2 separate regions of the Homo sapiens genome follow, and region 2 is linked to region 1. The links come from fine-mapping of genetic effects on gene expression. Tissue or cell type: whole blood. Region 1 holds a variant in brackets; the other region holds the start of a gene. All regions are shown on one strand. Distances are between the middles of the regions.

What was found.
Region 2: it holds the start of MARCKS, and the variant in region 1 is fine-mapped to the expression of MARCKS in whole blood (TOPMed, PIP above 0.99).

The regions. Positions count from the first base shown.
Region 1 is chr6:113,484,541-113,487,458 of GRCh38, forward strand. No RefSeq gene overlaps it. Among named protein-coding and RNA genes, the nearest start is that of LINC02518, 53 kb to the left of the region's middle. The variant A/G (reference allele first, on the strand shown) is at 1,799.
Region 2 is chr6:113,856,214-113,859,131 of GRCh38, forward strand. MARCKS (myristoylated alanine rich protein kinase C substrate) reads left to right here and starts at 1,132. Exons shown (of 2, transcript NM_002356.7): 1 at 1,132-1,634. The coding sequence starts at 1,533. RefSeq lists enhancers at 1-16, 287-832, 833-1,376, 1,164-1,213 and a silencer at 2,679-2,918.

The DNA of each region.
Region 1 (2,918 bases):
GAGGCCTTCTTGCTATTTCTTTCATTCTTTTTTTTGGGAGTCAGAGTCTTGCTCTGTCACACAGGCTGGAGTGCATTGGTGTGATCTTGGCTCACTGCAACCTCTGCCACCCGGGTTCAAGAGATTCTCCTGCCTCAACCTCCCAAGTAGCTGGGATGACAGGAGCCCGCCACCACGGCCAGATAATTTTTGTATTTTTAGTGGAGACAGTTTTCACCATCTTGGCCAGGCTGGTCTTGAACTCCTCGTGATCCACCCAACTCAGCCTCCCAAAGTGCTGCCATTACAGGCATGAGCCACTGCGCCCGGTCTCTTTTTTTTTTTTTTTTTTTTTTTGAGACAGAGTCATGCTCTGTCGCCCAGGCTAGAGTGCAGTGGCATGATCTCGGCTCACTGTAACCTCCACCTCCCAGGTTCAAGCGATTCTCCTGTCTCATCCTCCCAAGTAGCTAGGATTACAGGCATGCGCCACCACACCCAGCTAATTTTTGTATTTTTAGTAGAGATGGGGTTTTGCGATGTTTGCCAGGCTGATCTCAAACTCCTGATCTCAGGTGATCCACCTGCCTCAGCTTCCCAAAGTGCTGGGAGTATAGGCGTGAGCCACCGTGCCTGGCCATTCTTGCTATTTCTTAAACACACCAACCTTTTTCCTGATTCAGAACCTTTCTACTTGTTGTTTCCACTGTACAGAACATTCTATCCCAGTCTTCCTAAGGTTAGTTCTTTCTTGCAGTTCCAGTCAGCTCAAAGGTATGGCCTGGGCAGAAGCAAGGTAAGGGATGAGAAATTACTTAATGGGTACAATGTACACTATTCAGGTAATGTTTGCACCAAAAGGTCAGGCTTCACCACTGTGCAATATATACATGTAACAAAACCCTGCTTATACCCCTTCAATTTATACAAATTAAAAAAAAGAAAAGAAAAACAAAAAATCATAGGAGGCAATATCACAGACTAATACTAATTGTATGCAGGAATAGATGGAAATTCTGCTTTAATGTGCCATATTCATTGCAATTTTGTATGATACATGGAATCATGCACTGCTAAGGAGAAGCAGCACACTGATACATGTTACATATTGCATATTTTTATTATATATTGCATTATTTTGTATTAGTCGGTATCATTGTGTAGAATCAACAAACCAGCTGTTATATCGTTTTGCCTCTGTTTCCAGATTTTATAGATATATTTAATAGGCTTATGTAATAAATTAATTCAGCAAATGTTTTCTCAGCATCAAAAAAAGATATAGCCTCAAAAAGTCCTTCCTTGTCTATCAACCAAAATATGGTCCATCTCCCATCACTATCACATCATCCTGCTATACTATCTTTATAATATATATCCTTCTCTGAAATTACTGTGTTTATTAATTTTCCTGATTTTTATCTGTCTTTCCTCACTAAAATGTAAACACCCTGTGAAAAGATTCCTGCCTTTATGCTCACAGCTCTATTCCAGGAGCTAGAATAGTGCTAGTGCAAGGTAATGCTCATTTAAAAAAACTAATAAATGCCAAATGTTCATTGGGCATGAGAAGGCATATCCAAAACACTTGTTGGAGGGCAGCGGGAAGCAAACATCAAGAAAAATATCAGTTTTGAGAATACAGTGGCCTACTAGAACCCCCACAGGGATAATTTGGAGAAGGTTAGCAGAAGACAGTGAACCAACTGGCAGGAAGTCATGGGGACTGAGAAAGAACTAATTTTCAGTAATTGTTTTGAAATCCACCTGATCTGACTCTGAGTGCCTAGGTAGACAGCCATTGCCTCAGGAAGCACGT[A/G]CCTGTGTCATGCATTTCATCACTTCATTGCACCATGCCCGGAGTGGTATTTTGACTCTTTAATGTCCATGAATATGCCTTGACTTGAGAAGCACTGTAGTGTGGTGCAAAGTGCATTTACTATGAGATCAGCAGACTCAAATACTAGGTCCTGGACTAGCTCTGTGATCTTGGGAAAGACCCACACATGCCTAAACCCATGGACTAGTCTGTTTCCTGCCCTCCAAACCAACCACCACACAAAGCCAGGCATGATCCCTCTGGGCTAGGATTTTAGAATACTACTGTTTCCATTTAGTAATCTGACTGCTGTTAGCTTTAGCCTACCCTCCATTCTTGCCACAACGCCCTTTATTAATTGTCTGTCTTCTTTTCTTCTCTAGGTCAGATCTTCTTTAAGGGTTTTGTTCATGCTTACATCACATCATCAGTACCTCATCCCTACCTACTCCTAACCCCATCCACTACTATTACGCATATGGGAAGAAATAAGAAATGTGGCCGGGCACGGTGGCTCACACCTGTAATCCCAGCACTTTGGAAGGCCGAGGCGGGCGGATCACGAGGTCAAGAGATTGAGACCATCCTGGCCAACATGGTGAAACCCCGTCTCTACTAAAAATACAAAAATTACCTGGGCGTGGTGGCAAGTGCCTATAGTCCCAGCTACTCAGGAAGCTGAGACAGGAGAATTGCTTGAACCCGGGAGGTGGAGTTGCAGTGAGCCGAGATTGTGCCACTGCACTGCAACCTGGCAACAGAGTGCGACTGTCTCAAAAAAAAAAAAAAAGGAAATAAGAAAATAAGAAATGTTTGTCAAAATAGTCAAAACTTTCAGAAAAAAAATAAAAAAACAACTGGTAATATAGATCCAGTACTTTAAAAAGAAACATTCTTTGACCTAATTATTCTTTTAGAACCTTAGCCTTAATAAATAATTCCACATGCAAACAAATATACACATGCAAAGATGTTCAGTACTGTGTTACATTAATTGCAAAACAAAACAAAAACAACAAAAAACCTATAATGGAACAACATAAATAATCAGGAGGACAAGACTAAGTAATTCATGAAATGTCCAACTATAGAAGCTTCATATGTATGAATATATGATATA
Region 2 (2,918 bases), 370 kb after region 1:
AGGTTTTCCTCTAACCCAAGTTAGACTTGGAGAGCTCAGGGATCTTGCTATCTCTCAACATACAGAACATTTCTCCTTAGAACTGCAATCCGGTTTAGAATGTCATCGTTGCTGCTGCCTCCCTTCCTTTCAGGAGCACATTCGCCTGCGTGCGCACTCACACACACGTTCAAAAAGAGTCCATTCGATTCTGGCAGTAGGCTGAAAACGATCCATATTGACGCGAATAACATCCCAACTGTAAATATGGATTCGTCTACTCGAGGCTGTGTCTCATTTCACCATAGAGGAAAATTATGTCATTTAAAACAGTGATAAAACGCGAAGAGTTTCGATCTTCTGTAAATGGCTCTCACTTTGAATTGTGGGGGAAAAAAATCACTAATTGGGAATAGCCAGAGAAGGGGGAATTTGTTGAGCGCCCAAGGCCAATCTCAAAATATTTTATTTCATGCCAATGTGGGAGAGGGAAGGGAGTGTGGCTTCGCTGTTTGCCGCTTTTGCATTTTCCACATCTGGCCTACAGACCTAATTCTAACTTGCGATCTCGCTTGATGAAATTCGATCTTCGTGGTTTAAATACCTTTCAATTTGGGACGATTTAACCATTGCAGCAGTTCAAAAAACAAACCCTGAGCATTATCTGTAAAACCAATATGGAAAAAAGAAAGAAAACATGCTGCAAACACACAAATCGCAACCATTGTCTTTAACACTCGCATACACACACATACACATAAACACACGGAAAGATGGGGGAGGGGAGCGAGTGGAGAGAGAGAGACACACGGATATAGACCGACGAGAGTCAATGCGAGTCAAGTTAACGCTTTCTCCGCCCCGATGCACAAGTACCCCCCTCCCGTGTTAATTAATTCCAAACAAAGCAAGCCAATCAAGAAATGCATTATTATTTTCAAGCAGAGAGAGACGAGTGCCATGTATTTTTTAATTGATTTATTTATTTGGAGGACATTAATTCTCGGTCTGAGGCTGATTTTCAAACCGTTTGCAAAGCGCGGCTCCATTGTTCGCCAGGCGCGCAGACCCCGCCCCCTGCTTTGTGTGCGGCGCGCGGATTGGCCGACGCGCGCGGGGGCCGCGTCAGCGCCCGCGAGCCCATTCATCTGTGCACTTGGGCGTTGGACCCCGCATCTTATTAGCAACCAGGGAGATTTCTCCATTTTCCTCTTGTCTACAGTGCGGCTACAAATCTGGGATTTTTTTATTACTTCTTTTTTTTTCGAACTACACTTGGGCTCCTTTTTTTGTGCTCGACTTTTCCACCCTTTTTCCCTCCCTCCTGTGCTGCTGCTTTTTGATCTCTTCGACTAAAATTTTTTTATCCGGAGTGTATTTAATCGGTTCTGTTCTGTCCTCTCCACCACCCCCACCCCCCTCCCTCCGGTGTGTGTGCCGCTGCCGCTGTTGCCGCCGCCGCTGCTGCTGCTGCTCGCCCCGTCGTTACACCAACCCGAGGCTCTTTGTTTCCCCTCTTGGATCTGTTGAGTTTCTTTGTTGAAGAAGCCAGCATGGGTGCCCAGTTCTCCAAGACCGCAGCGAAGGGAGAAGCCGCCGCGGAGAGGCCTGGGGAGGCGGCTGTGGCCTCGTCGCCTTCCAAAGCGAACGGACAGGTAAATTCTACCTGTGGTTGTGGTCATTTATTTCGTGTCTTTCTCTCCTTCCCTCCTGGTGGCTCCCAAGGCTCATTCGTGGAGAGGAGTGTGGCTGGATTCTAGTCTGAAAGTTGAATGGAAATGGATAGCCTAAATTGTGGATTTTTCATAGCCGGGGTCCCCCCACACCAAAGGAGTGGTTCCTTAGAATCCTGGAGAATTCTTGAGTAGACGGGAGGAAAGGAGTGATAAATCGTCTAAAATGGCGTGGTTTGGAGATTGGCAGAACGTGACTAGCTAGGTGCCCTCCTTCCCCCGCCCCCAGCCAGGTTTCATTTGTGTTTGGGGGCACAATGGTGTTTGGGTGTCTCTCGGGTTTGTTGTCGAAGCTGGATTGTCTTCGAGATTTCTGAACTGGTGGTGTGATTGTGTGTGGCGGGGGGGGGAGTCGGGAAAGGGGGGCGCAATGGGGATGGTGGTGGAGAAAGGCGAGGAGGGAAAGGCTGTCTTATTGTATGCCGCGGCGGCGTGCCCTGGGTTCTTGGAAAGGTGGCTGGCTGGGGCCAGACAGAGGGCTTCGGTACCTTTTGATGAGGCTTTCCCACTGTCCTAAATCTTTATTCGTAGCTGTCTGTGGAATTACACATCCATTTGATTTTTAAATGGTATCTGTGGGGTGGGAACACTCGGTGGGTCCTTTAAGAACCTTTCCAGATGGTCAAAAAGAGGCGGTTCGTGCCTTTCGGTCGGGATTGTTCTTGTGCGTGGCGCCTCGACCACCCGCGAGGGGCCGCCCGGCGCTGCCCGGACCCAGGCAGATAGCCACGATTGGGTGGACCCGAGAGGTCGGCCATGGGTGGCTGCTTCGCAAACACTGGGCACCCACCACGCCTCTTTTCCTAGAGAAGAGATCGTGTCGCTTCGCCTGCTCTAACCTACTGGGGAAAGCGAGGTCTGCCAAGAGGCTTTAAACCCGTTAAAAATGCAAAATGAGCCGCCGAGGCGCGCCCAGGCTTCGCAGAATCGCAGGGGAAGGTGGGCGTGGAAGCAGAGGCGAGACCTCAGAAATAATGGGTTTCCCCCTGCCTTGTTGGTTTCAGCCCGACCGGCAGGCCAGGAAACCACCTGAGCTTTGTTTGCGGACTGTTGGGCTGCGCGATCCGGGCTCGGGGGCGCCTCGGCCTGCGGGCAGGGCCCGGCTGGGCAGGGCGGGGTGGCCCGGCGACTCCGCCCCTCCTCGCCTGCCTGCGCCCAACGCGGCGCGGTGGAGGCACAGCGCCCCCTGCCGGTGCCAAAGGCCTG